4 linked regions of the Homo sapiens genome follow. The protein of the gene in region 3 interacts with the protein of the main gene of each other region in a pairwise test. Each region holds a gene or a part of one and is shown on either strand. Other genes may lie near its edges.

Region 1 (8,440 bases), on a different chromosome or scaffold from region 3:
CAGTACCCTCCCTATCCCCATTGTTTTGCAAATGTGATAGACATCAAAGCACTGCTTCACTTTACAGTGAAGTAGACTGGATTCTATCTATGACATCTCCTGGTCTTTTAAAACAATAGTTGGATTTTTTTCTTAAATACTGAAAATATAAGAATTTTAGAAAGTACTGAAAACTTTTTTTAAAAAATTTCCTTTGAACATTATTTTTCATTATTATAAACATAGACTTTCTAATTTTACTTTTAAAACAATATAGAAAATTTCTGTATTTCTAATTTTTTCCATAGTTATAATTTTAGTGATTTGATGATATTCCATCATGTTGACATACCACAGTTTATGTATTATTCACTTAGAATAAACTTTAAGGAATTTTAGTTTCTTTTTATTTGGAAAATGAGGATTAGAACAAGTTTTTCCTCTGAGTTAATTTCAACAGGTTAACTAGATTAATAAATATACCATTTCTGTAATTCCTGGTACTTTGTCCTAGTTTCCTTCAAATCATTTGTGTCAGTTTGTAGTATCAACAACAGTGTATTACTTTGCCATTTTTGTCACTAATATTGAGTATTTAAATCTTTTCGTTTGTTTGTTTTTATTTTTTTAATTGACAAAGGTATATATATTTTTCATTTACAACATGTTTTGAAATATGTATATATTGTAATGGTCAAATGAGCTAATTAGCATATTCATTATCTCACATACTTTTTGTGGTGAGAATACCTAAAATCCACTCTTTTTGTAATTTTTAAAAATAACAATATATTGATATTAACTATAGTCTATGTTGTACAATAGATCTCTTGGTCAGTTTTTTAAAAGCTGTAAACAGAAGTTTAATAGAAAGCAAATCTATCCACCATCTCATTACCTTAAGGAATATTTGTTGACTGCCTGTTTGGTGACTATGTTAGAAATACTGCTAAATGTTTGCAAGCTATTTGTTTAATTTTATACCAGTCTTAGTAGGTAGGTTTCATTATTGTTCCCATTTCCAGGTAAGAAAACTGAGGCCTGAGTGCTTCAGTTTATGTCCTGATAAGTAGGCCAAGTCAGGATTTGAACACAGGTCTGATTCCAGAGCCTTGTTTTTAATCCTGCTTCAAAAAAATCGTATGTATTCTTTTGGTATTATTCATACAAATGTTTCATATTTTTATAGACTTCAAATAATTATTTTAGTAGCTATATTCTTTCATTGTGATAAAATACTTACTTTATTGAGTCATTCCATATTCCATAGTGAATATTTGGGCTCTCTAGGTTTTTATTAATTACATGATGCTTCATTGATAACTTTTCTGCATATATACTTTTGCTTTTGTGGAATTATTTACTTCAAGTAAATTCCAAGAAGGGAATATATAGATTATTTTGGGGTCTTGCATATGCCTTGTAACAGATGTACCAGTTTTATTATAATATCCCTTTGAATTTTGTAGGGTAGCCTTAGAAAAGTGTTTGGATTGATTGCTACAAAGAGGAAAATAAACATCTTCTTTCTTGATTATATGTTAATATAATTTAATGTTTCTGAGTTTTCTCTGGCTGTATCACCCTTATTAGTGACTCTACGTTAACATTTTAAAATTACTTAACCATTCTATTTTTTTCTCCCTGTGGCACATCCATATTATGCAAGATTATACTTTTAAAAATCAAGATGCAAAATAAGTCTAGCATGACTTAAAAATGTATGCATAAAAGCTAAAGACTGAAATTATCTGTTTGTTCCTGGACAATTATATAATTTTTAAATTTCTACTTTAATTTTTAAGGGCTACAAGGCAGGTTATTTTATAATCAAATTTTTTTAACACAGCTGATAAACATTTAATATGGAAATAAAATACACAAAATCACAGCTAAAGGATAAGTTGTAAAGAAACAAAAATTTCTCTGTCTCTCTACTTCTCTAATGAAAATGATATTTTTAACAGGTAAAATAACATAGCTTCCCAATTTTCTATTGTCACTTTTTCTTTTTAAACAGAGATGCTGTTCAGTTAAATGTGATTGCAACGCGACAGCTTATTCTCCTTGCACAACAAATGAAGAATCTGGAAGTGTTCATGCATGTATCAACAGCATATGCCTACTGTAATCGCAAGCATATTGATGAAGTAGTCTATCCACCACCTGTGGATCCCAAGAAGCTGATTGATTCTTTAGAGTATGTTTGTTTGAAATTTATATACATTTACTTTGATCCCAAAAGAGGCCAAGGCGGGCGGATCATGAGGTCAGGAGTTCAAGAGCAGCCAGGCCAACATAGTGAAACCCCATCTCACTAAAAATACGAAAAAAATTAGCCAGGCATGGTGGCAGGCGCCTGTAGTCCCAGCTACTTAGGAGGCTGAAGCAGGAGAGTTGCTTGAATCCCAGAGGTTGCAGTGAGCCGAGATGGCGCCACTGCACTCCAACCTGGGCAACACAGTGAAACTCTGTCTCAAAAAAACAAAAAACAAAAAAAAAACCTTTGGATTCAAGTCCCTCCCTCTTCTCCTCACCCCACCCCATATACATGTGCGCGCGCGCGCGCACACACACACACACACACACACACACACATACATTTATCTCTTTTCTTCAAAAATTTTTGCATATCCCCTGCATTCTTATTGTATAGATTAATATCTAAATAAATGTTAATGAAGTCAATGTGTAGTTTTCACTTTTGACCAAGTATAATGGTAATATTTGGAGGAAGGCTCCTGAACATCTTATTAGTGATATTAGGGGCTCTCTTTTTCAGGGAATCAATCTTAGCAACCAAGAAGTACCAATGGAGACCCATGACTGCCTGTTTAATAGCAAGGCTCTAATTTATCAAAGGATTCCCCTCACCACCCCCCAGCCATGGAGTATATATATAGAGGGGCCTTTAATTATTAGAGAATCAGAGGAATCATAGTCTTTTAATTCATAACCTTACTTTTTATCTTTCTGAGGACTGAGATCCTGTCAGCAATTGTTACATGAAAATTATTTGTGAGTATTGATAGATAGGGATTAAATGAGGGAGTATATACCATGACCTTATTCTCATTTGCTGCAGCTCAGGCTTTCTCATCAAACAGACAAGGTTCAGACAAGAAAAAGAGAGATCTTTTTTACTTTTACAATTATATAAACATTCCAGTATCCACCATATTTTCATGTTTGTTAATCCTTATATAATATCTTTGAATTTTTTCCTCCTTTATTCTTCCCTCTTTTAGTCTTCTTTCTTTCCAGAGATTCTATCCACTTTGACTGCTTAGTTAACATCTGCTGCTTTCTCCTAAAATAAGCACAGTCTTTTCTTTAAGGCTTTCCTGCTAATATGAGGAAACAGATAGATTGTAAAAAAAATGAGAAATTACCAAGACATTTTCATTGTAATTCCCTAATTTCTATTTTCTCACTCATTTTCTTAGATGGTCCCAAATATCTACTTCATTTTCTTCATAGATCAATAAACAGAAATATTTAATATCTGCGGGAAAAGTTGAGTGTGAAAGTTAATGGAGCATTTTACTTTTTCTCTTACTAACAATATATACAAACATTTGAGAAACTGAAAAAGAACTTGTAAGCTAATGCTGTATCTCCTTTCCTTGCTGCAAAGAAATCTAGCTAACATAATTTTAAGATAACTCATGGGTTTGTTCTGTAAACTCGTTCTAGTAATAAGGCTTACTAGCTAAAGTTTCTCCTGAGTTTAGGCAGGTTTTTTTTTCCTCATGTATCAACTATCCCTTTCATTTTTCAAATCTCATCTCCATGGTGGAATTTTTCCTAAGTTGGGTAGCAATTTCCCTTCAATTTAATTGATGTTCTTTTCCTTTCATATACAAAAAGTACTTCCATATACAGAAGAAAATTTTATCTTGATAATCTCTGTTTTATGCTTTCTTATCAATTAGTATGGGTATCATTAGAGTATGACAATATACTGAGTCTACTTGCATACACAGCATTATTGACAAGAAGTAAAAACAAGTACATAATGTATTAGAATCAGAAGTTTAGGAAAAACCATGGACACCACCTAGTATATCGCCCTCCTTTTACAGATGAACAGAGTAGACCATTTCTTCAAAGAGAACTGGAGGAATTTTTTTGACTTCATAGTAGGTTGCTAATTGAATTTTTATAGCATGCTTCAATTTATTTTTATTGTTCATCATAGCATTTGTTAATCTCATTAGAGCATATGATTTGCAGTGCTGCACCTTAAATACTAGGCCTTTTATGCCTTTTGTGTTCATTATAAATGTATGTTAATTATAACTGTATATAATTAACATGTTACTTCATTAGGTGGTTATATACAGATCTGTATTTCCTAACCTGCAAACTTCCAGAAGGTTTCAGATATATTTTGGAATTTATTTGGACTTTAGAGAGGGTATATAATTTATGTACTGTGTAATAAGAAAAAACTTTAACTTGATCTGGGTTAGTATCCCTGATCAAATACATGTAAAATATATGAATGTTTAAGTTGTATCAAAAAAAAGACCATAAGTCAGTGTAGATCAGATTTTGCTATCCACTGTATGATTTATGAAAGAACTCTTAGTTTTCAGATCTTTTTGGATACAGAAATTGCAGATAAGGGATTGTGGACCTGTAGTTGATGTTTAAGAAAAATAAGACTAAGTTCCATTTTTCAGTAAAAGTTGTCAAATGATTTGAGTCAGAACAGCAGATATGTTTGAATGTGCGAAGTTCAATTAAGTAGCTTTTTATTTTATAGTAAAATATCTGGAAATATATTTGTATGCAATTTCTTTACCAGGTGGATGGATGATGGCCTAGTAAATGATATCACGCCAAAATTGATAGGAGACAGACCTAATACATACATATACACAAAAGCATTGGCAGAATATGTTGTACAACAAGAAGGAGCAAAACTAAATGTGGCAATTGTAAGGCCATCGATTGTTGGTGCCAGTTGGAAAGAACCTTTTCCAGTAAGTTGTTAGAAACCTTTATAAATAACTGGAGTTGAGAATTTTAAGTTGTAACTCTGTATAAAAAGAGCTGGCAGTTCTTTAAGAACAGGTATTATTTACTAAAGGTGAATTACCATGGCAAAGCTGTTTTGTGTTCATAGAGTTAATTTTATTGGTACTTTCATTTCTATAATGTGACGCTGGGTATATAGAAATGTAGATCAACATTTAAAAAATCCTAAGTGAAAATTAAAAGCTGTGACATTTTCTTAAGTCAGAGGAGATTTGGTTTGTTTCTTAGTAGCAAAAAGAGGCAGACCTTCCAGGAGGTAGACCCCTTCCTCTGTAGATCACAAAGTAAAAAAGGTACAGGGTGTTAGGGTATTTGTGAATTCCTGGAATGAGAGAAAGCAGAAATATAAACCAGTTGGGTCAATTGATTTAGGCAAAACCTAGGTCTGTGTAATGGTAGTAAGTGATAGCATCTGTTGTTGCTTTGACAATTATTCTATTTTTCTCTGTTTTATTCATAATTTTGAGGAGGATTTACCATTTTCCCTAATCTCAGGCTATTGAATTAGTAAATAGCATAAAATCAAACTTGAACAAGCTTAATTTTGTAAAAATATTCAACAATATAAACCCTCTTTTATAAATTTCTCTTTGCAGAGAGTTAATGGAAGAGTAGTAGGTAGCCCTTTGAAAATGATTTTACTCAATTATTTTTGATCCCAGAGGAAGACTGCTTCTGTTTGGGACTGGTAGAAATAGTCTGGCCTGAATCTAGTCTGTTTTTTAGTTTTTAGAAGACAGCTACCAAGTATATATTTGGGGTTGTAGAGTTCAAATAATAAATCTCTAGCTTCATAATGTTTCTAAGCTTCTCTCCCTTTTAAAATTTTTGGTATTAGGGATGGATTGATAACTTTAATGGACCAAGTGGTCTCTTTATTGCGGTAAGTAAACCTTTTGATTTATTTAATATTCTATACATTTTTCTGCTTTTTGTATATCTTTAAATATATATACACTATGGCTTATATATCTTAAGGTGTTGTTTTTAATTTCAACAAAGGCAGGGAAAGGAATTCTTCGAACAATACGTGCCTCCAACAATGCCCTTGCAGATCTTGTTCCTGTAGATGTAGTTGTCAACATGAGTCTTGCGGCAGCCTGGTATTCCGGAGTTAATAGGTATATGAGGTGACAATGTCGCTTATTAAATATATAGTAACTGAAAAGGGAAGACATAGCTTTTGAGTAATGTTAATTAATCCCTCTATCCAGATATTGCCATACCAATATTTAGGCTGTATCACTGCCAACTCCAAGAGTTGGTATTATCACAGACAATAGCAAGTGCTCCCATCAGTAGTAATGAAGAATTAATGTTAATGCTCATGTATTACTTACAGGATAGACAAGTTCACTTAAAAATGAAAAAAAAAAAAATACCCTCCCCTAAGCATGATTTTTTAATCCAAACTAAAACTTGTTGAATATATAAAGAGCTGAAATTCACAGAATATGGTTTACATATATTAAACATGGTACACCAGAGCAGCTTTAATCAGCCCATGAACATCTTTCCTTTAAAAAATAATAGTAGCATTTACAGGTAACACTTAAACTTTAAACTTCCCAATAACTTTTTTTTTCTAGGTAGTAAACTACCCTTATTTTTGATAATCAGTATTTTCTGTCCTAAAAAAAGAGAGATAGGATTATATGAATATGTTGTTTCTGGCAAAAGGAAACTTAGTCCATAATTTTTTTTCAGCTAGATCCTCTGAAAATGAGACAAGAAGAGCTGAGGTCATTTGTTGTTTTCCTCGTGTTTAAAAATAGACATTCCTGCTAATATAAGGAGGAAAAATGTGAAAGAAAAAAGTCTGTATTTTTTAAAATAAGTTATTATTTTTGGTAGGGGAAGAAGAAAGGGTAGTTGTAAATAGTCATTAAAGTAAAAACTAATCCTTTAAGGATAATTAAAAAAAAATAGTATAGAAAAGGTGCCCATCATCCTCATGTCTTCTTGAATACTATGTAGGACTTAGATTGGATATGTTTGGCCTCTTATTATGATTAATTGGTTTCATCTTTGTCTTTGCAGACCAAGAAACATCATGGTGTATAATTGTACAACAGGCAGCACTAATCCTTTCCACTGGGGTGAAGTTGGTATGATTTTACCTGTGTTTTTGAATGTTAGAATAAATCTTAAAGAACCAAGTTCCCTGAAGTTTTAATGTTAGAATACCTATGAGGCATTAAGGCCACTGAGTTACCAATTTGTTCTTAATTGTCGTCTTAGAAGTATTATCTACCAATACTACCTTGTGGTCCTTAATAATGTTTCACAAATTTAAAAATATACTGCTGTCTATTCTTACCCACCCACCCTACCCTTGTCTAAGCCTTGCTGTTTTTCTCCTGCCATCTGCAGTAGCCCTCGTAGATACCTATGGCATGGGAACAGTGCTTTTTTTCTCCCTTGTGAGCACCCTCAGTCTTGATGTTGCCTATCCATAGGCAGTATCACTTCTTACAAGAGGTGGTATATCAAGTGGTACCCAGAGTAATAAATGAAGGAGTTAGGAAGTAGGATACAGTTTGCCAGAATATTTTCTATTAACCTGTATTAATCTATTTAAATTCACAGATTCACAGCAGATATACATGTTCCTAGTTCTATAGGAATAGCATAACTTAAATAGGAATAGTTAAAACCCATTGAAATTGAGTCAATTTTAAATTGTTGGTTGATGAGTTCAAATTTAAAGTAAAATTTTTTTGGCATTGATTTAGTGATAGGTCTTATTTAACCTCTAATTGATTAATTACCCCTGCAGAACAATTTTGATTTCAATGTAGATTTTTTATGACATTTGTCCTAGGATTTTTCTGTGGCATTTTTATTTCAGTGTAAAATTGACCATTAGAGCATATAAGAAAAAGATAAAATCTAAGGTGATTTTAACTTTATGATAATTATTTTCAGTATTCTTTTAAGAATATTTAAACATTTTTAATGAGTTAGGTTTTTTTGTAATCTTTTATTGTGTTATAAAGTTTAGTAAAAGCTGAAATTGAGCGTTATATTTTAGTGACTATCTCAATATACATTTCTAGTAAAGTATTAATATAGATGATACTAGGTTTGATTATGTTGACATTACATAGCCTATATAAATTACAACAGAAGTTAATTTTGGGTTGTTTTAAGCCTGTTAATGTATGTTAATTTGAGCATCTTAAGCAAAGGATGATTATTTTCCTTTTCTTTTTTAAGTAAGTACAGTAATAAGAGTCTGGAAAGAGGAACAGAAAGGAAGAAGCTATCGTGAGAGGTGAAATATAGAAAGTGACACTGTAAACTGACATAGGTAAAACATTAAAAGGATTTTAAGAGTGAATTTTAGCAAAAATTCATTCATCTAAAATTCATAAATAGCGGCAGTTACAAAACCACTTGAGTTTAGCAGTCT
Region 2 (5,396 bases), on a different chromosome or scaffold from region 3:
ACCCCACCCACTGCGATTGTCCTGATTCTGCCCTTAGGACCACAGAAAGCAAGCCTAATTTCCTCTTTTCAACATGGTATAAACATGTAGGTATGAGTTCAAATCCTAGCTCTGCCACTTACAAGCTGCGTTATCCTGAACAGGTCCCATAACTCTTCAGGGCATCATCTGTAAAATGGAGATAACAGCACCTGCCTTGTAGGGCTATGTTAGGCTTTAAGATAAACTCATAGTGTTCTTAGCACAAATCTTGAATTACAGCAGGTGCTCAATATTATTCCCCATGACTACTATGGCAGATTAGACATGCTTGAAATTTGTTGACTCCTCCCTTCAAGACAGGGGGTCTTGTTCCCCTCCTCTTGAATCTGGGCAGGTTCTGTCACTGCTTGACCAATAGAATATGGTGCAAGCGACCTGTGCTAGTTTCAGGGTCCAGGGCTTAAGAGACTTGCAGCTACCACTTCCATCTCTTGAAACTCTCAACTGTATGACCTGACTCTAATTGCCCTGAGGCCACCATGCTGAAGAAGCCACATGTAGAGCTCTGGTCAACAGTTCCAGCTGAGCCCAGCCTCCAGCCATCCCTGCCAAAGTGCCAGATGTGTGACTGAAGCCATCTTAGATTCTCCAGACCAGCCCATCCACCAGCCGAACAGCACCAAGTGACCTCAGCTAATGAAACAAAAGAATCGCCCAAGTGAGCACTGCTCCAACTCCAGACCCACGAATCCAGGAAAGACAATAAGATGGTCATTGTTTTAAGCTCCTAAATTGTGGGTAATTGGTTGCATAGCTACAGATAACTGGGGCAACCATTGCCAAATATTTGAAGGTAACTGTTCACTTCCAGATTGAACCTGCCTACCTCTCTCAGCTGATGCTCACATGATAGGGTTTTGGGCCTTAGGACCCCTGTGATCAGCTGTCTTCTGGACAATGGGAGCCCAACAATGAACACAGCCTTCAGGGCAGAGGGGGGTTCTGCCCAACTATGCCAGTTAGGACTCTATCTGGAATAATTTAAGCAAAAAAGGAAATGATTGGCTCATAATGGCTTCAGGCATGGCTGGATCCAGGTGTTCCAAGATATTGTCAGGCTCCATTTCCTTTGTGATTATTTTATTTTTGGGCTCTTCTCACGGAGCCAAAAAGCTTTAGAAACTCACTCAGCTTCACATTCTCTCAGGTACAAGTCCAGATGGAAAGACTATCTGCCATTCTCCCAGCATTCCCAGCAAAAGTATCACTGATTCTCTTTGGTTGGTGGCTGTGTGGCCCAATCAGAGCCAATTACTGTGACTAGGTAGGTGGAATGGCCTAGGAGCTCACAGATGGGACATACGCCATCAAAACCATATGGACTGGTAATAAGGAGGGGTAGTTCTTCAAAGGAAAACCAAGGATATCATCACAGGGGAAGGACAAGTGGATGGCTGGGCAGCAGATCTATATATATCCACCCCTGCAGCTAAAAGGAGAATGAAAAACATAACCTCTCTCATTCTACATGGCATACCTCTCTTAATGCAGCCCAGGGTCACGTCATCACTTCACATTGATGACTCACAACAGATATTCAGGGGGATGTTTTTCCTTATCTAATATCGCTTGGTTTCACTCCCTCATCCTCTGCCAAGTCAGGGATGCAAACATGCACATGGGTCCTCCCTCTTCACCTCTGTCCCAAGCACAGTGAAGCTTCTGGGGGCATGGAGATGAACAGACTAGGCCTGTGGCCTGCTCCACCTTCCCTGAGTCATTATCCTTCTCTCCCCTCAGAGTCAAAGTGATTCAAAAGAGACAGCTCAGGCCCACAAGCAAGTTTTACCGCCAACATGGCTGGCACAAACCCAGGGCTAGAACCAATGCTTTAGGGCTAGAACCAATGCTTTTGAGGGCAAAATAAGCCCTTCTGTTTCTTCACAGAGTTGGATTGTTTGCCTTGAGTGCATAGGTGACCATCTGAGTTATTAGCAACCAGGGATTTGGTATATAATACTGTGCATACATAAATAACAACAACAAAATTGGTCCACTGCCCAGAGAGCTCTCGATCCACAGAGCTGCCAGACATCATGAGATTTCAAAAGATCTTGGCTCTAAAATCAGAGGATGTTTGGATATAAATTCTAGTACAACCCAGTCATTTGACAGATGAGTAAACCAGGGATCAGAAGAGTCCAGGCATGTAATTGCCCCAAGGTCACTGAGTAAGTGAGTGGCCGAGTGACCACTGAAATTTAGTCCATCTGAGAGCTCGCCCCCCTGCCCTGTGCGGTGTTTTTACAAGAGTGAGCACGCAGGTTCCAGGGTGGTCAAGAGGTGTTTACTTTCATTTTGTAGTCGGCCTTCATACAAGGTGGGGGCTGGGAAGGGAAGAGCAGTCCAGGCCATTACCCCCATGAATTCATTTGACAAATATTTATTAAGCGTCTACTGCAAACTTGGCCCGGTGCTGGAAGCTGAAGACACAATTCCAGAGGCAGACAATGACTGCCCTTGGCATTTCCAGTGGTCAGGGGTTGGTGAGGAGGGGCAGAGACACCAATCCAAGAGTCCCCGCAGTTTATACATACCACAGGCACGGAAAGCGCCAGGAGGGGAAAGAACAGGATGTTTACCAGCACCTTCCACAGGCAGCCACGGTCATGGGGGTCAGGACAGGGTCCCCAGAGGAAGTGACGATTCGGCTGAGCTAGAAAGACATTTCCACAGGAACTTACAGTAAGGGCTGCAAGGACAGCCTGTCCTCCCCCGCCCACCACCTCACTAAACTTTCACTGTGGCAATCGGCATTCCCTAAGCCTGCCAGGAAGCTTCCAGTAACCACTTCCTGACTCCTAGCATGACACACTTCGGGCCTTCCAAGGTTGACGATCTAAGGCCCTTACACAGCGCCAGACACGCGCAGGCAGGGAGGCAGGATGTGCCTCTCCAGACAGGAATGTGGACGCCACCTGGGCTCTTCCCCTCAGCCTCCACAGGGGAAGAATATTCTTGTGGGGTTTTTCCCTTCCAAATGTCTCAGGGCGATTCCAGTGTTCCCGCTAGTTCCTCCCTCCCAGGCTAGAACACAAATCCTTCCCACTCCCTGCCTGGCAAACACCTTCTGACCCTCAGGCCCAAGGCAATGGCCCACCTCCTCCCAGGCTGGATGGGGTCTCCTCCTCTCTGTTCCCCCAGCCCCTGAGCTTCCTGAGGACCAAGCTTGTGGCTTCTTCTCCTTACTCTTCCTCCTTGGTGTCTCTATGTTAGAGGGCCGTTAGCATCTGCTGGGGCCTGGTCGCATTCACCCTGCTCTGCCACTCACTGGCTGTGTGACTCTGGACAAATTAACTTCTCTGGACCTGCAGTTTCTCCTCTCTACAATGAGAATACTGGAGAGTCCTTATCTTATGGGTTGCTACAGAATTAAGTGACATCTCACACACAACACACTTCCTACAGTCCCTGTTACACGCTAAAAGTACTCAACATGCAACGGATACGTCATCAGTAACCACCCCACGGGTTTACTGTGATGCTGCACAATTATTAAGCCTTGGCTGCTACAGAGTTGTAACCTGTCTGCACTTCCAACCGGTTTGGGAATGCAAGCAGCATTCCCAAGTCCCGCTTTCACCCGCGCGCTAACGGCTCAGGTTCGAGTACAGGACAGGAGGGAGGGGAGCTGTGCACACGGCGGAGGCGCACGGCGTGGGCACCCAGCACCCGGTACACTGTGTCCTCCCGCTGCACCCAGCCCCTTCCGCGCCGAGGCGTCCCCGAGGCGCAAGTGGGCCGCCTTCAGGGAACTGACCGCCCGCGGCCCGTGTGCAGAGCCGGGTGCGCCCGGCCCAGTGCGCGCGGCCGGGTGTTTCGCCTGGAGCCGCAAGTGACTCAGCGCGGGGCGTGTGCAGGCAGCGCCCGGCCGGGGCGGGGCTTTTGCACTCGTCCCGGCTCTTTCTAGCTATAAACACTGCTTGCCGCGCTGCACTCCACCACGCCTCCTCCAAGTCCCAGCGAACCCGCGTGCAACCTGTCCCGACTCTAGCCGCCTCTTCAGCTCGCCATGGATCCCAACTGCTCCTGCGCCGCCGGTAAGAGGCTGGGGATGCCCAGTGTAGACTGTAGCGCTAGAGAAGCAATTTCTGACCCCTCTTTCTTTCTCTGGTCACTCAATTTCAGGACAGGAGTTGCTCCTTCCCAAAGAGTTTTGGGGTATCTTTCTCTCCATTCTAGGTTATTCGGAGCCCCCTTTTTACCGTTAAGGAGATCTGAGTTAATGGCTTGCTCAAGTTCCCAGGAATCGGTTGTGGACTGAGGAACTCGGCCCCGGGCTCTTAGTACGCCGTCCCTTGTTCAGGTATCCAGGGACGGTTCTCACCTCTGTCTTTTCTCCTTGCAGGTGACTCCTGCACCTGCGCCGGCTCCTGCAAATGCAAAGAGTGCAAATGCACCTCCTGCAAGAAAAGTAAGTGGGATCCTCTCTTTCCTCTACCCCTTCCCTGTCCTCCAGCCTGTCCCCTCTCCACCATCCTCAGGGGAATTAAAGCAGTCTGGGGATGCCCCATTGCGCGGAAATTGTTGCCTCCTCAGTGATCCTTATCAGGGAGAGCAGGAATCCTTATTCCCGGTGTCGCTAGTACTCATCTCTGCCGCCTCCTGTCTGCCCCCAGGCTGCTGCTCCTGCTGCCCTGTGGGCTGTGCCAAGTGTGCCCAGGGCTGCATCTGCAAAGGGGCGTCGGACAAGTGCAGCTGCTGCGCCTGATGCTGGGACAGCCCCGCTCCCAGATGTAAAGAACGCGACTTCCACAAACCTGGATTTTTTATGTACAACCCTGACCGTGACCGTTTGCTATATTCCTTTTTCTATGAAATAATGTGAATGATAATAAAACAGCTTTGACTTGATTCTGTCTCTGGTTTCCTTTATATGCCTTAAAAATAACGGACTGGGGTGAGGGATTGAACTGGGAGGGCAGAGACCTGGGCTGTGGATGGAAATGTGAGCCGTTAAGAAAGAGTGCATTCTGGCAAGCCAGGCTACTGCACTGAGCTTCAGCTTCTGTAAAACTGAATGGCGCTGTGCCAGATCATATGGGAGCAGGAGGGACACATACATGATCACTTTCAGTTTCACGTCAAATGTGGCACAGAAACTTCTCCATTCCTCACTTTTACTTTCAATTTCCCTGCCCAACTTCAGTTCTTCGTGGGATTTTAGACTTGAAAGTGACTACAGAGGGTGAAATCCAACTCCCCAGTGGCTGGAATCTGACATCCGGTTTCCCAAACTCCCTGTGGGGAATGACCAGTTTTGTTTTGTTTTGTTTTGTTCTCCATTAGTCACAGACCTAAACTCTGGTAAAATAAGGAGTTAATAAGAAAATGAAAGTTTAAAAGACACAAAA
Region 3 (8,881 bases):
AAAAAAAAAAAAAAAAAAAAAAAAAAAAAAAAAAAAAAATCAGACGTTAACAAGGAGCAGTAACAATGAAATTAAAGCACTCTTTGTCAAGAAACAGCCCTGTCATCATTGCCTGTCAACTGAAGCCAAGCCCCGGTAAACACACTACTGAAGGCCAAGGCTGCAAGGACCACTGCTGTCCCCAAGCCTTCAGCTTCTGGACATCTTGGATCTCAAGGACAAGGGACACTTGTGATAGATAGCTCATGAGACACAGAAACATGTGACGCCCAAGCCAGCTCCAGCCTGTAACTCACCCAGGCAACAACCAGGTGCCTGCAATGCCCACGCTGGGCTTTCTGGGCAAAGAGACTCAGTCACACTCTGGAATATCAATGTGCCCCAAGCCTCCCCAACACCTTCTGGTATCCTTTTTAGGAATCCATTGCCCACAGATTCATCCACATCCTCCCTAAACCTAATTATATCCTCTCCCTGTTCTTATCCTGGTGGAAAGAGTTCTGGAAGATTCCACACTTGTTTGAGCCTCTTTTTGTTTGTGCTAAAATGATCCCTTCCAAGTTTCTGCAGATGTCCCCAAGTTCCAACCCACCAAATGCCAGAATGAGGTCCCCATTCGCTCCCGCTCTTCATGGTCCTCACCTCTTGCTTTTTTGCAGGCGTATTTCAGGCTGCAAACACCTTTTTTTTTTTCCTTCCCACACCTTTTAATTACAAAAGTATTACATGAATATACGCTCCTTGCAAAACATCCATTCAATCCCCGTACCGGCCAGTAGGTTCTCTTAGGGACCAAGCACAGTGGCTCATGCCTGTGATCCCAGCACTTCGGGAGGCTGAGGCAGGCAGATCATTTGAGGCCAGGAGTTTGAGACCAGCCTGGCCAACGTTACATTTTTTATTGGCCAACAATACAAAAATTAGCCAGGCGCAGTGGTGGGCACCTGTAATCCCAGCTACTTGGGAGGCTGAGGCAGGAGAATCACTTGAACTTGGGAGGCAGAGGTTGCAGTAAGCCAAGATTGCACCATTGCACTCCAGCCTGGGAGACAGAGCGAGACTCTGTCTCAAAAAAAACACAGAAACCAGAAAAACATTCAGACAAGCCACAAGCAGACAGAGGGAAAATGGGACAGTCCCCTGGCCCAGCCCTAGACTTCTTCATAACATTAACTGCTGAAATGGTTTCCTAGAAACTTTTTTCAGGCATTTATCTACCTAGATGTAGATCTGATTTTCCTTTTCATAAATGAAATCGTGCTGTATATATTATTCTGTAACTTGAAAAGCTTGTTTTTTAGACAATCCTCATATGGAACTGTGCAGAGGCCACACTAGCGTGGGTGTTTGGAGAATGCTCCTCATAGAAGCCCCGGGTAAGTATTTCCAAACAAAATGAGAGAAATAGGATTGCATACAAACTTTTCCAGAGGCACTTTTATGCTTTTCTGGGTCCCGCCCTATTCAGCCATGACTGTATATTTCTTCCCAGCATGAAACATCCCTGTCTCCTTGTTATTAAGGAATTAGCCAGAAATCATCTTGGAGTCCTCTGATTTGGTAAATATCAAGGAGAAAAAAAGAACTAGGAGCTGTCTTTTAGCTTTGATAGGCAGAGCAGTATGCTAGAAAACACCAGATCTGGGCCTGGCGTGGTGGCTCACGCCTGTAATCCCAGCATTTTGGGAGGCCGAGGCAGGAGGATCTCTTGAGGCCAGAAGTTTGAGACCAGCATGTGTAACACAGTGAGATCCCACCTCTACAAAAAATCAAAAAATTAGCCAGTCATGATGGTGTACACCTGTGATCTCAGCTACACAGGAGGCCAAGGTCGGGGGATCACTTGAGCCTGGGAGATCAGGTTTGCAGTGAGCTATGATCGCACCACTGCATTCCAGCCTGGGGAGCAAGCAAGACCCTATATTAAAAAAAAAAAAAAAAGAAAGAAAGCACAAGAGGTCAGTCCTGAGTGGCTCCTAGGCCTAGCAAATCCTGAGCCTCTGTTTCTTCAGCTAAAGGAAAGATACTACTCTAATGTTTTAACCCTAGGGTTGTTAAGGATCAAAAGAAATGGAGATTGGGAGGCCAAGGCGGGAGGATCGCTTGAGCCCAGGAGTTTGCGACAAGCCTGGGCAACAGAGTTGAGATTCTGCCTCTGCAAAAAAAAAAAATTAAAATATAAAAAAGAGACGGAGGGAACAGACACAGGTAGTGCATTCCAGAGCGCTGTCATAGCTGTGTAGGTTGTAGTTATCACTAAATGAGAAAAGCTAAATTCAAGCGAGTTATGCAAACGAGGCGTTTGGCAACTTTTACTTGCATGCTTATGGTTTTCTGGGGAAATTCAAATGCGGGCTCCGGAGCCGCAGCCCTGAGCGTCCCGGGGGTGGCCATGGCGCCACCTGCCGGCCGAGAGGAAGGAGACGCCTGGCGGGTCCCGGCGCCCGGGCCCGGTGACCCTGCGCCCTCTCCAACCCCGCCACGGAGCCACCCGATCCCAGCCGGTTCCACGTCCCGGGGTGGCTGGGGAGTCGCAGCCGAGGATCCTCCGCGGCCTCAGCCCCAAAGACTGGGCGGGAATGACCCCTCTGGTGTCCTGGGGCCGCTGATAGGAGAGGGGTGCCCGGGACGCGAGGCCTTGGCCACCCGAGAACCTGCTCCGCGACACAAAGCCGCAGCCGCGCAGGTGAGCGGCAGAGCCACGTGAGCGGCCGAACGCCCCGGGCAGAGCCCCAGCCCCAGCCACGGCGGTCGGAACCACCTCTACTCGGAGCCCGGAACGAGGGGGCGAAGGTTGGGGAAGCGAAGAAAGGAAGGGACAGGGTGGGCGCGGCCAGAGACCACCGCAGCCCCGGAGCCGGACCCGAACCTTCAGCCCCCGCAACCCCGCAGCCCCGCAGCCCCGCGGCCCCAACCCCCAGCCTCCTCCATCGCTCGTTCCAGCTGCCCCGTCTGCAGCCCCCAACCCCCGCCGCCCCGCGCCCCAGCCCCCAATCGCCCTGCACCCAAGGCCCTTCGGTCTTTCCCCCCGTGACCCCAACCCCCAGCCACCGCCATTTCGTCCCAGTTGCCCCGTGTCCCCTGCCCCTGGCATCCGCCACCCCGCGCCCCCAGGCCCGAATCGCCCCGCACCCCAACCCCCTCCAGCTCTCGTTCCAGCTGCCCGGTGTCTGCAGCCCCCAGTCCCCGCTGCCCTGCGCCCCCAAGTCCCGGATCGCCCCGCTCTCCAGCCCCCAAGCCTCGCTCCAGCCACCCAGTGGCCAGGGCCCCCGCTGTCCGCTCCCTCCCCCCACCCCCCGGCCCCTCGGCCCCGAGCTACTCACCGGCGGCTCGCGTAGCCGCTGCCAGGGGAGCCGGCGCCGGGCTCGGGGTAGCCGTGCTGCTGCAGAGCTGCGGCCGAGAAGGGATAGAGGAAGCCGGTGGCCAGCGCCGACCCGCAGAGGCAGCAACACGCCCAGGGCAGGAGCAGGGCCAGCTTCATCGTGCGCAGCAGCCCGCGGGGACCCGGAGTCCCGGGCACGAGGACCGGCAGGAGCGCACCGGCGCCCGGACCGAACCCGCGGCACCGGCCGGGAGCACAGCGAGAGGAGCGGGGCGAGCGGTCGGAGCCCGGGTGCGAGCTGGAAATGTGTGGGGGGCGCCCACGCCTCTCCGGGGCCGCCTTTTCAAATTCGGCGAGGTGGGCTCTAAGCCGTCAAAGGGGGCGTGGGGCTTTTTTGTTAACCCTCGGCGGTCCGGGGCCGAGGAGGCGGCAGTGGCGGCAGAGCTAGGGTGCGAGCTCCGCAGGAGGTCCCTGGAGCCTAACACCCCGAAAGCCAGACCTCGCGCCCAGGCCCCCGCTACACACCTTAGAACCTTTGAAACCAAACCTTCTTCGGGTCCGCGAATGCTTTCGGAGCGCCCATTCTGTGTCTGCCAATTTCACCTGGACGATGTTGGTGAATCCTCGCCACACTGCCCTCGATGGTCCCATTCAGAAGTGGAAACTGAGGCTGGAGAAAGTTAAGCCAGACAAATGCGAGTCTTCCGATCCTTGTGCAGGGCTCTTTGGATCAAAGCGCTGCGTTCCCGTGAGAAACTGACCAGAGCTTCCCAGGATTCTCCTCCTTCCCCTTTAACCTCCAGCCCCCACCTGCCCCGCTGTCTCTTCCAGGTAAGAAGCTTTGGGAGGGGCGGAAGGGTCAGTTGGGGTGAGAAGTTGTAGCTAGATTGGGAGGCCGAGGTGGGCGGATCACCTGAGGTCAGGAGTTCGAGACCAGCCTGGCCAACATGGTGAAACCTCGTCTCTACTAAAAATACAAAAATTAGCCTAGTGTGGTGGCAGGTGCCTGTAATCTCAACTACAGGCTGGGCTGAGGCAAGCCAATCACTTGAACTCAGGAGGCGGAGGGTGCAGTGAGCCAATATCAGGCCACTGGCCTCCAGCCTGGATGACAAGGTGAGGCTCCATCTCAAAAAAAGAAAAAAGTTGTAGCTAGAATCACAGATTCATGAGACATCCTATCCAGAAAAGGGCTTCAGGAAGATGTAGGACAATCCCACCTTTTATAAACAGAAAAGCAGAGTCCTAGATCCCATGCTGGGCCCAAGGCCAGCCTGGACCCAAGTTTTGGTCTTTTCTATGTTGCAGGATTCCCATAGGGCTTGGACCCTGCTCCAGGCCCAGGTGGGACCAGAAATCCAGCCCGTACTCTACTCGCCCGGGTTAGGAGCATTTTGTTCCTTTTTTTTTTTTTCTTTTTCTTTTTTTTTTTTTTTTGAGTTGGAGTCTCGCTCTGTCACCCAGGCTGGAGTGCAGTGGTGCGATCTCGGCTCACTGCAACCTCTGCCTCCCGGGTTCAAGTGATTCTTCTGCCTCAGCCTCCCGAGTAGCTGGGATTACAGGCAAGCAATACCATTTCGGGTTAATTTTTGTATTTTTAGTAGAGACGGGGTTTCGCCATGTTGGCCAGGCTGGTTTCGAACTCCTGACCTCAGGTGATTCACCCACCTCCGCCTCCCAAAGTGCTGGGATTACAGGTGTGAGCCACCTAGCCCGGCCTGGGAGCTTTTTTCCTAATTCTTCCAAAAGCAACCTAAGGGTGCAGATGCCCTGAGGCTTGCTCTGCCCCTGTGACCAGTTGAAAACTCCTGTCTGTAAAATGCCTACAGGATGGAGAAAAACCATCAAATATGGAAGTGTTTGCTGGACTGGAGCACATTTTGCAAAAGGATTGTAGAGGCCAGTGGCAATGGCTCACTTCAGTAATCCTAATCCTTTGGAAGCCGGGCACAGTAGCTCACGCCTGTAATCCCAGCACTTTGGGAAGTTGAGGTGGGCAGATTACTTGAGGTCAGGAGTTCAAGACCAGCCTGGCTAACATGGTGAAACCCTGTCTCTACTAAAAAAATAGAAAAAATTAGCTGGGCGTAGTGGCATGCACTTGTAATCCCAGCTACTCAGGAGGCTGAGGCAGGGGAATCGCTTGAACCCGGGGTTGCAGTGAGCTGAGATCATGCCACTGCACTCCAGCCTGGGGGACAGAGTGAGACTCCGTCTCAAAAAACAAAACAACAAAGACCTAATGCTTTGGGAGGCTGAGGCGGGAGGATTGCTTAAGGCCAGGAGTTCGAGGCCAGCTTGGACAACATAGTGAGACCCCCCCATCTCTACAAAAAAAAAAAAAAAGCAAAGCGTGGAGGTGTGTGCCTGTAGTCCCAGCTACTCAGGAGTCTGAGGCAGGAGGATTGCTTGAGCCTAAGGGTTCAAGGCTGCAGTGAGCCATGATGGTGCCATGACACTTCAGCCTGGGTTACATACTGAGCCTGTCCTTCTCCCCTCAAAGAAGGATTGTAGGATTGTTGTTAGAAGACGACAGGAAGATGGCCAAGCATGGTGGCTCACGCCTGTAATCCCAGCACTTTGGGAGGCCAAGGCAGGTAAATCACAAGGTCAGGAGCTCGAGACCAGCCTGCCCAACATGGTGAAACCCCGTCTCTACTAAAAATACAAAAATTGGATAACTAGCCCTGCCCCTGCCCCTGCCCCTGCCCCTGCCCCTGCCCCTGCCTCTGCCTCTGCCTCTCCCTCTCCCCTCTCCCCTCTCCCTCTCGGTCTCCCTCTCCCTCTCTTTCCACGGTCTCCCTCTGATGCCGAGCCGAAGCTGGACTGTACTGCCTCTGCCTCTGCCTCTCCCTCTCCCCTCTCCCCTCTCCCCTCTCCTCTCGGTCTCCCTCTCCCTCTCTTTCCACGGTCTCCCTCTGATGCTGAGCCGAAGCTGGACTGTACTGCTGCCATCTCGGCTCACTGCAACCTCCCTGCCTGATTCTCCTGCCTCAGCCTGCCGAGTGCCTGCAATTGCAGGCGCGCGCCACCACGCCTGACTGGTTTTCATACTTTTTTGGTGGAGACGGGGTTTCGCTGTGTTGGCCGGGCTGGTCTCCAGCTCCTAACCGCGAGTGATCCGCCAGCCTTGGCCTCCCGAGGTGCCGGGATTGCAGACGGAGTCTGGTTCACTCAGTGCTCAATGGTGCCCAGGCTGGAGTGCAGTGGCGTGATCTCAGCTCGCTACAACCTCCATCTCCCAGCCGCCTGCCTTGGCCTCCCAAAGTGCCAAGATTGCAGCCTCTGCCCGGCCACCACCCCGTCTGGGAAGTAAGGAGCGTCTCTGCCTGGCTGCCCATCGTCTGGGACGTGAGGAGCCCCTCTGCCTGGCTGCCCAGTCTGGAAAGTGAGGAGCGTCTCTGCCCGGCCGCCATCCCATCTAGGAAGTGAGGAGCGCCTCTTCCCGGCAGCCATCCCATCTGGGAAGTGAGGAGCGTCTCTGCCCGGCCGCCCATCGTCTGAGATGTGGGGAGCGCCTCTGCCCCGCCGCCCCGTCTGGGATGTGAGGAGCGCCTCTACCCGGCGGCGACCCCGTCTGGGAGGTGAGGAGCGTCTCTGCCCAGCCGCCCCGTCTGAGAAGTGAGGAGACCCTCCGCCCAGCATCCGCCCCATCTGAGAAGTGAGGAGCCCCTCCGCCCGGCAGCCGCCCCGTCTGAGAAGTGAGGAGTCCCTCTGCCCGGCAGCCACCCCGTCTGGGAAGTGAGGAGCGTCTCCGCCCGGCAGCCGCCCCGTCCGGGAGGGAGGTGGGGGGGTCAGCCCCCCGGCCCGGCCAGCCGCCCCGTCCGGAGGGAGGTGGGGGGGTCAGCCCATCCGGGAGGGAGGTGGGGGCGGTCACCGCCCGGCTAGCCGCCCCATCCGGGAGGGAGGTGGGGGGGTCAGCCCCCCGCCCGGCCAGCTGCCCCGTCCGGGAGGGAGGTGGGGGGGTCAGCCCCCTGCCCGGCCAGCCACCCCGTCCGGGAGGGAGGTGGGGGTGTCAGCCACGTCGGGAGGAGGTGGGGGGTCAGCCGCCCGGTCCAGCCGCCCCGTCTGGAGGGAGGTGGGGTCAGCCCCCCGCCCGGCCAGCCGCCCCGTCCGGGAGGTGAGGGCGCCTCTGCCCAGCCGCCCCTACTGGGAAGTGAGGAGCCCCTCTGCCAGGCCAGCCACCCCGTCTGGGAGGGAGGTGGGGGGCTCAGCCCCCCGCCCGGCCAGCCGACCCGTCCGGGAGGGAGGTGGGGGGTCAGCCCCCCGCCCGGCCAGCCGCCCCGTCCGGGAGGTGAGGGGCACCTCTGCCCGGCCGCCCCTACTGGGAAGTGAGGAGCCCCTCTGCCCAGCCAGCCGCCCCGTCCGGGAGGGAGGTGGGGGGGTCAGCCCCCCGCCCGGCCAGCCGCCCCGTCCGGGAGGGAGGTGGGGGGGTCAGCCCCCAGCCCGGCCAGCCGCCCTGTCCGGGAGGTGAGGGGCGCCTCTGCCCAGCTGCCCCTACTGGGAAGTGAGGAGCCCCTCTGCCCAGCCAGCCGCCCCGTCCGGGAGGGAGGTGGGGGGGTCAGCCCCCCGCCTGGCCAGCCGCCCCGTCCGGGAGGTGAGGGGCGCCTCTGCCCGGCCACCCCTACTGGGAAGTGAGGAGCCCCTCTGCCCAGCCACCACCTCGTCTGGGAGGTGTACCCAACAGCTCATTGAGAACGGGCCGGGATGACAATGGCGGTTTTGTGGAATAGAAAGGGGGGAAAGGTGGGGAAAAGATTGAGAAATCGGATGGTTGCCGTGTCTGTGTAGAAAGAAGTAGACATGGGAGACTTTTCATTTTGTTCTGTACTAAGATAAATTCTTCTGCCTTGGGATCCTGTTGATCTGTGACCTTACCCCCAACCCTGTGCTCTCTGAAACATGTGCTGTGTCCACTCAGGGTTAAATGGATTAAGGGCGGTGCAAGATGTGCTTTGTTAAACAGATGCTTGAAGGCAGCATGCTCGTTAAGAATCATCACCACTCCCTAATCTCAAGTACCCAGGGACACAAACACTGCGGAAGGCCGCAGGGTCCTCTGCCTAGGAAAACCAGAGACCTTTGTTCACTTGTTTATCTGCCAACCTTCCCTCCACTATTGTCCTATGACCCTGCCAAATCCCCCTCTGCGAGAAACACCCAAGAATGATCAATAAAAAAAATAAAAATTAAAAAAAAAAAAAAAAAAAATACAAAAATTGGCTGGGCGTGGTGGCGGGCGCCTGTAATTCCCAGCTACTCAGGAGGCTGAGGCAGGAGAGTCACTTGGACCTGAAAGGCGGAGGTTGCAGTGAGCCAAGATCTCGCCACTGCACTCCAGAGCAAGACTCTGTCTCAATAAATAAATAAATGGAATGTCCATACTTCCCAAGTCCCAAGTCTCTGTCTTAAACTCAGAGTTGGTCATCTAGGAGTAAACAGCCTCCTAATGGAATTGCTTCGTTCCTCTCGCCCTCCTTCCCTCCCTTGAGGCCTAAAAGATTTGGAGAATTTAGGTTATCAGGGGATGTTCAGTGCCTCCCCCAAAAAGAATCTGAA
Region 4 (8,376 bases), on a different chromosome or scaffold from region 3:
GCCTAGCCTTTTCCTTTTGTTTTTTGTTTTTTTGTTAAATATATTTTTCTTTTGAAACCAATCCTTATTACTTTACACAAATACCGGTAGAAAACATGGCGAATGGAAGAGTAGGAATTAGAGTAAATTGGATTTTGAGAGTCTCTGGTTCTTTGGATATTCTCACTTTCTAAGACCAAGGGGTTGTAATGCCGTCTTTCCTTCAGTTATACCACAAGGATTTAGGGAATGTTTACCAAATATATCAGTATTATTTTTCCTTTATGAGTAAGAAGTTAAAGAATTACACCCCCTACTTTTTCCACCCACCACCTTTTTCATGTAAGTAAAATCCCACCTTCTGGGTCATAGTGAGAATTTCTTTAAATAATTCAGTTTTGGACAAGAATAGAGGGAAAGGGCCAGGCATGGTGGCTCAAGACTAATCCCGGAACTTTGGGAGGCTGAGGTGGGCAAATCATGAGGTCAGGAATTTGAGATCAGCCTGGCCAACATGGCGAAACCGCGTCTCTACAAAAATACAAAAATTAGCTGGGCGTGGTGACACGTGCCTGTAATCCCAGCTACTTGGGAGGCTGAGGCAGGAGAATCGCTTGAACCCAGAAGGAGGAGGTGGCAGTGAGCTGAGATCTCAGCATTGCACTCCAGCCCGGGCAACAGAGCCAGACTGTAAAAAAAAAAAAAAAAAAAAGAATAGAGGGAAAGGCATTACAAATGTGTAGCAAATACTCTGGGTAGGAAAGAGGTTAGCTGTGTAGACAGGAAGAGTGATTGTGCATGTATGTGTGTATGTGGTGGTTAGCTTGTTGAGAATTTGGGGGAATCGTGAGAGCAGGACCTTCTTCCCCACTATTTGCCAGTGCATAAATAACACATCCTGGATTGAGCCACAGAACAAAGTGTACTTTGCTTTCCATCTGCTCTAAGTCATGACTTAAAGAATATTTACACGAATGTATACAGATAGGGGATACATTTCCCATGCAGAATTAATAGGAGAAGAACATCTGATTTGACAGGCAATGAGTTGGCAATAATAAGCAATTGTTCTGTTCCTCAGAGTGGACCCAATTGATTCAGGTGTGGATCATTATAGGTTCAAAGAATGCCAATGTGTTAGACTGATAGTGAATGACTGAGGCTCATCCCAACGTCAGTATCATATAAAGGTAAGCTAGGGTGGCACCCTCAATTTTTCTTTCATTTAAAATTCATCTTGCGTGATGGAACAGAGACTATTTTTATTTGTGGAATTAAGGTTTTCATCATTATAATCAGTTTTCAACCTCTTTCTCCATTTCCATTCTCTTTCTCTAAAACACTTTAAGAAGACCAAGTAGCTAACCTTTTCTTTCAAGGAATTAAAATACTCTAAAGTTCATTTGAGGCCAACTGTGAGCTACTGGAGACAAGAGATCATGTCTTATTTACTTTCATTTTTCCATGTCTTATTTACTGGATGCATGGCAGCTGCTCAACATATTTGCTAAATGCATATAGCAGCCAAATAAAGTTTTTGTGATAACAGAATTGCATGCTGTTGGCTGGAGTAGTTCAGTGTTCAAAAGATTGTGTTTGTATGAGATCATTTCAATATATACTAGAATGGATCAGGTGTGGGACTGTAATACACAATTAGCCCCATCACTATGATATGTTTTGATTTATGAAACTTCAGCTCTCAGTCACACAATTTCATGTTTACAAGGTAAATTTGCTAGTTAATTACTAGCTTTAAATGGAATTATCTAGCTGAGTTTTGTAACCATAGAAATTTAGAGATAGTTCTTTTTGAAATGAAGAAAATGTATTTTTTTCAAAGAAATTTCCTCTTTCCATTTCAACTTTATAATGATAGCAATAAGTTGATAATAAAATTTCGCCATGCATTGTGGAGACTATCTAAGCTTTTAACTTTGAATGAGTGGAATAAGATCTAGAAATTGTCTTGGGACTATTTTAAATAACTTTTTAGTAGAAATATCATACTTCACTTACTGCTTTTTTTTTTTTTTTTTAAATGGAGTCTCACTCCGTCACCCAGGCTGGAGTGTAGTGGCACAATCTTGGCTTACTGCAACCTCCGCCTCCCAGGTTCAAGCAATTCTCCTGCCTCAGCCTCCCAAGTAGCTGGGATTACAGGTGCCCACCACCACGCCTGGCTAATTTTTGTATTTTTAGTAGAGACAGGGTTTAGCCATGTTGGCTAGGCTGGTCTCAAGCTCCTCACCTCAGGTCATCCTCCTGCCTCAACCTCCCAAAGTGCTGGGATTACAGGCGTGAGCCACCGCACCCGGCTATCACTTACCGCTTTTGGATTGCAAGACTGACATCTGAGCAACTATGGCTTTTGACTCAATAGGACTAAACCACTGGATTAAATCAAGTGAGTCTATGCGTGGACTCTCAGTCCATATCCCTTCAGTGTTGTTTGGAGTTCGACAATCAATAACCTTTTCTGGGACACACTCTAAAGACTGACTTACCGGCACTGCAAAACTCATTTCCAGGAGGCATAGGATCAGTATCAGGTCCTTCATTTTGAAAAGTGGAATCTAAAACATAATTAAGTTGGAGAATTAAATCAGATGAATTTTTATTCAGAATGGTTAAAAGACAATTTTTGAAAATGAGCCTGAGTCTCTGCTCTTACAAAAACCACCGGGATAAAGGTTAGAAGAACAAAAACAAAAACTAAATGTTACTAAACAACCGATTTGTATGTAGTAGTTTCTGAAATAAATTAACAAGCAATTAAAAAATATCTAAGCACGTTTTAAATGGATCTACAGCCTAAATAAGTATGTAGGAACAACCTCCATCGATATTCTTTGTGATATATTTCATTTCATAAAGTGAATTATGAGTTTAAAAATCCTTCCCACTAAGTAAAATATTGGTCTATAAGGTATTATTCACAGAAGTTTATACTTTGCTTACCCTTTGGGACACATTTTGAAATGCATGTGAAATGTAATGCAACTAAGTCATTTTATAACAAACCTTTATTTGCAGGAATAGAGGGTACATCATTGCATGTTTAGGTAATCTACGTAACCATGACAAAATTTTTCTTTTCAAATGAGAGTAAATTGGCTATCTTAATTTTCTTTGATGTTAGTGGAAAATATGTCTCAAATTTAGCTTTCCTCTTCCTAAAATGAATTATCTTTTAAAATTTATTCTATAAATTCAAAAAGCTCTTTATTCTTACATGAATAGAGATCTGAATAGCCTAGAAATTTACTCATCTTCTAATATTAAAAAGAATTAGGCACTATAATCAAAAACATTAAAAAAAACACAATCTATAAATAAAAGTCTTTTTTTTTTTCTTAGTTGAATGGGTGTTAGGCATGTCATCTCTGGGACATGCTAATGGATTACAACAAGCAATAATTCAGCTACTGGTGACAAATGAAGATAAATCCTCTTTATAAAAGCTGTCAGGAGATAGGAAAAAAAGAATTTACAGGAAACACATGGAAATCATAAAATCCCATTTTACCTTAGATGCTGACATGCACTGTGCTCTCAGGGCCTGATGATGCCAACCAAGATAGTTCTAAGAAAAGAAGATTAAAATTTTTTTCAGGACTGTGCGTGGGACTTGCTCTGTACTTCTCATTCAGGGAAGATTAGAAACCTTTATTTAAAGTGCCAATCCACCAATCAAAGTGAAGCAAAATGGCGAGGGGTGGCGGGGGGGAGTTGGGGCGGGAATCTCTGCTCCTGCAATTAGTCCACACCCTTTTATTGCGTGCAGGGACATTGGCCCAGTAGGGTCTCATTATTTTTAATTGTACTGCAGCCCCTGTACTTATTCAGAGAACTTGATAGCAGGGAAGGCAGTAAAGGAATAATGGACATAGGCTCTGAAGACAATTATTTTGGTGAGCTGGGGAAAATATATGTAAAATAGGTGCAAAACAAAACCTGTTTTGTGCAGGTTTTATCTGCAGATAAAGCTAGTGACCCAATGCTAGCATTCTTCAGGTTTTCACCCTCCTGTTTGTTGTAGTAAAAGAGACTACTGTCCTTCCCCCCAGCACACACAGAGTTTAAAAGAAAACACTAAAATGTTAGATGGAAAATTAATGTGTGTGATTTCTTCCTTGAATTTCCTAGATATTTTCATATCTGGAGATAATTGATTAGAGATAGCCAAGCTTTTGTAAGAAACTACAGTTGGACCCTTTGCAAGAATCAGGTTTACTTCAGGTAAACGTTTGGTGCATTTTAAAAAAAATCTGTGGGGACGGGGACGTAAATCAGAACATTCTCTATGAACCAAATCAATGGGCACAAGTGTCAGTTCACTCTTCAGATAGACACATTCCCAGGCATTAGTATCAAGCCAGGTTAATAAGACATATTTCGATCACTTAAAAGGTTAACGTCAACACAGATTGGTTTTTCTCCGTGAACAGATAATATCTTGGATGTGGATTGAATATTAGCTGCTTTTGTTACTTCTCTGCCCATCCTTGTCTTTCCAAAGTTGTGATTTCAGATATGGTAGGGATAAGCATTTAAGATTAGTTCTGAAGAAGGGATGAGTCAGTACACTCTTTAGGGAAGTAGGGATCTTGTCAATTACAGGGAACATTGAGGAAGCTGGTATTTTGAGAGAAAGCTGTATCCATACCCAAATGTAGGCCTAACAGCTTCAAATAATGTTATCTTAGAAGCTGCTCCTGAAAACCTCTGTGTTCCACTGATACCAGAATTATCTTTAGGATGCAAAGAAATGAAGAATGTGAATGTGTTTTGCAAACAGCAAAATGTTATTGAAATGAAAAGTATTATTTTTCATGCTGTCTCTGGTGCTTGATGCAGTCCCTTAATCTCTTTTGAGCCCCAGTTCCTTCTTCTGTTATGTAAGGATAATAATTAATGACCACAAGCTAGTCTTTTTTTTTTTTGAGACGGAGTCTCGCTGTGTTGCCCAGGCTGGAGTGCAGTGGTGTGATCTCAGCTCACTACAACCTCCGCCTCCTGGGTTCAGGCGACTCTACTGCCTCAGCCTCCTGAGCAGCTACGATTACAGGCCTGCGCCACCATGCCCGGCTAACTTTTTTTGTATTTTTAGTAGAGACAGGGTTTCCCCATGTTGGCCAGGTTGGTCTGAAACTACCGACCTCAGGTGATCCTCCTGTGTTGGCATCCCAAAGTGCTGGGATTACAGGCGTGAGCCACCACGCCCAGCCTGAGCTTGTCTTAAAGATTGGTGAGATGGTGAAGATGCAGCAGCTGCCATTTATTGGGTGCTGAATGAATGAGTTGATTGTCCTTTTGGTAGGAGAAACTACATGAAATATGAGACCACAAGAACTGTGTGTGTGTGTGTGTGTGTGTGTGTGTGTGTGTGTGTGCTGGAGGAGGAGGAGTGCTGGCAGCTAGGTTCATAAGCTCCAAGGAGGTAGAGGAGGGACCTGATGGAGGACATTTTCTCTGTGGAAGTTGATGCTGAATCCATAGGAACGAGCTTCCTAGTTGGCTAAAAAACTGGCAAATAGTGTGTATGTGTGTGTCTTGTAAAGTTTATAAGCGTGATCATGACACACTAATAATGATGTTTTGGTAGGATTCTTATGTTCTGCTTTGCTTTTGAGCCAAATATCCAATATATCATACACACTGTTGCTTCTTCCTTTTTTAAATGTCACACTCCATTCTGGCTTACTGACTTCCAGATGTTTATCTGGTAGTTTATTTCTCCTCCAATATCCTGCACACCAACACTAGACTTATCTTCCTAAAATACTGGTTTTGGCATTTCACTGCCCCACTCAAAAACTATGTAAGGATCTCTAAGGCTGTCATAAAGTTCACCCTCTGTAACTAGACAGTCAATTGAACATTTCAGTTCCTCTTTCCAATCTTGTTTCCCACTTTGCATGAGACAGTGTGTATTCATATTGTAATAATGATTGTAATCAATTGGAGTTGGTTTCATTTTTTCAGCTAATAAACAGTTTTTTGTCAGATTTTATGGGATGTATGTTACTGGGAAAGTTGGTAAATGTAATACTAATATATCCTACAAAAAATTTTCTATTACAATGAAATCTGGAAATTAGTATGAATGTATGAATGAGTTTCTGACAGTGATTATAGATATAAGGAAATTACCATAGCTGATGGAAACCATGTTATGTTGGCCAAGACCATACCTGTATGAAGAAGAATCAGAGAGTCAGTTATAAGAAAATACTTGTGTCTGGAGTACAGCAAAATAAAAAAAAATCTCAAAGTGACAAAAGATGTGAGACACATGAAGAGACATAGGCCATAGAAAAAGTTACAATGAAAAATTTAGAGCAACAAGATCTGGCAGAATATGTTAGTAAAGTGGTTGAGAGCACAGCTGTTTAAATCCCCTCTGTAATACTCACTGGTCATATGACATTGAATGAGCCACTATATAATCTTCATGTAGTTTTTTTTTTTAAAGTTTTTTGAGACGGAGTCTCACTCTGTCATCCAGGCTGGAATGCAGTGGCACGATCTTGGCTCACTGCAACCTCCGCTTCCCAGGTTCCTGCAATTCTCATGCCTCAGCCTCCTGAGTAGCTGGGACTAAGGGCACGCGCCGCCATACCCAGATAATTTTTGTATTTTTAGTAGAGACAGGGTTTCACCATGTTGGGCAGGCTGGTCTGTAACTCCTAGCCTCAAGCGATCTGCCCACCTTGGCCTCCCAAAGTGTTGGGATTACAGGCATGAGCCACTGCACCTGGCCTCCATGTTTTCACTTTATATAAATACATATATTTTATATATATATACACATACACATATATTTTATATATATGTATATATGTATGTATATATGCATATATATGTATATATACATTTTATATATGTATATATGTTATATATGTATATATGTATAAATGTATATATATTTTATATATACATGTATATATAGTATATTTTATATATTATATATACACATATTTTATATATGTGTATATATACATACATATATAACATATATACATATATAACATATACATACATACATAACATATATACATATATGTTATATATGTATATATGTATGTGTATATATTTTATATATGTGTATATATAGTATGTTTTCTATATGTATATATGTGTGTATATATACATATGTTTTATATATATACACATTATATATATATATATAGAGAGAGAGAGAGAGAGAGAGAGAGAGAGAGACAGAGTCTTGGCTCACTGCAACCTTCACCTCCTGGGTTCAAGTGAGTCTTCTGTCTCAGGCTGTCGAGTAGCTGAGATTACAGGCATCCACCACCATGCCCAGCTAATTTTTTGTATTTTTAGTAGAGACGAGGTTTCACCATGTTGGCCTGGCTGGTCACGAACTGCTGACCTCAGGTGATCCACCCACCTCGGCCTCCCAATGTGCTGGGATTACAGGCATGAGCCACTGTGCCCAAGCTCATATAACATTTTTATCTGTGAAATGTGGTCTACCGTAGGTCAGCATTAATTTAATTTAAATACGAAATATAAGGTGCTTAGCACACTAGCTGGTAGCCAAGAAATGTTCAGTGATCATGAGTTATTATCATTCTTGTGGAAATGAAATATGAAGGCTAAAAATCTGCTTCATATTAAAATACTTTCTCAGCTTTATTGAGGTATAATTGATATACAATAATTGCACATATTTAATGTATACATCTTGATGAGTTTAGACATACGCATATACCCTTGATATCAGCATTACAACTAAGGTAATAAACATATGCATTACCTCCAAAAATTTCCTTGTGTTCTTTTGTATGTGTGCTTTTTTATTAAGTAGTAAGAACATTGAACAAGAAATCTGTCCTCTTAACAGATTTTTAAGTGCACAATATAGTATTGTTAACTATGGGCATATTGTACAGCAGATCTCTAGAACTTATTCATCTTGCATAACAGAAATTTTATACTCATTGAAGAACAATTCTCCATTTCTCCCTCCCCCCAGCCTCTGGCAACCACTATTCTTTGCTTCTGTGAGTCTGGCTATTTTAGATACCTCATGTAAGTGGAATCATGCAGTGTCTGTCCTTTTGTGACTGGCTTATTTCACCTGGCATAATGTCTTCTGGGTTCATCCACGTTGTCACAAATGGCAGGACTTTCTTCTTTCTAAGGCTGAATAATATTCCATTGTATGTATATTTCCCATTTTCTTCATCCATTTATCTGTTGGTGGACATTTGGGTCATTTCCATATCTTGGCTTTTGTAAATAATGCTGCAATGAACATGAGGGTTTTGTCTAGACTTTTTTCTTGCCTGTTTACAACTTGTTTTGCAAAGTCCCAGTCAAATTTGACCTCTTCTGTGACTCCTTCCCCTACTTTCCACTCCACTG

What was found.
Region 1: the proteins of COL26A1 (region 3) and FAR1 interact in binary tests that used the Homo sapiens proteins (3 or more experiments, as listed by UniProt).
Region 2: the proteins of COL26A1 (region 3) and MT2A interact in binary tests that used the Homo sapiens proteins (3 or more experiments, as listed by UniProt).
Region 4: the proteins of COL26A1 (region 3) and AMBN interact in binary tests that used the Homo sapiens proteins (3 or more experiments, as listed by UniProt).

Annotation. Positions count from the first base shown.
Region 1 is NC_000011.10:13,705,901-13,714,340, forward strand, and holds part of FAR1 (fatty acyl-CoA reductase 1), read left to right. Parts: intron 1-1,999; coding exon 2,000-2,179; intron 2,180-4,792; coding exon 4,793-4,970; intron 4,971-5,863; coding exon 5,864-5,908; intron 5,909-6,027; coding exon 6,028-6,146; coding exon of another isoform or gene 6,147-6,155; intron 6,156-7,065; coding exon 7,066-7,133; intron 7,134-8,244; coding exon of another isoform or gene 8,245-8,302; intron 8,303-8,440. UniProt on the Homo sapiens protein: Catalyzes the reduction of saturated and unsaturated C16 or C18 fatty acyl-CoA to fatty alcohols. It plays an essential role in the production of ether lipids/plasmalogens which synthesis requires fatty alcohols.
Region 2 is NC_000016.10:56,604,602-56,609,997, forward strand, and holds MT2A (metallothionein-2), read left to right. Parts: upstream 1-3,982; 5' UTR 3,983-4,054; coding exon 4,055-4,082; intron 4,083-4,390; coding exon 4,391-4,456; intron 4,457-4,661; coding exon 4,662-4,753; 3' UTR 4,754-4,896; downstream 4,897-5,396. UniProt on the Homo sapiens protein: Metallothioneins have a high content of cysteine residues that bind various heavy metals; these proteins are transcriptionally regulated by both heavy metals and glucocorticoids.
Region 3 is NC_000007.14:101,357,633-101,366,513, reverse strand, and holds the start of COL26A1 (collagen alpha-1(XXVI) chain isoform 1 precursor), read right to left. Parts: upstream 3,640-8,881; 5' UTR 3,482-3,639; coding exon 3,324-3,481; intron 1-3,323.
Region 4 is NC_000004.12:70,587,506-70,595,881, reverse strand, and holds the start of AMBN (ameloblastin precursor), read right to left. Parts: upstream 3,627-8,376; 5' UTR 3,524-3,626; coding exon 3,509-3,523; intron 2,556-3,508; coding exon 2,487-2,555; intron 1-2,486. UniProt on the Homo sapiens protein: Involved in the mineralization and structural organization of enamel.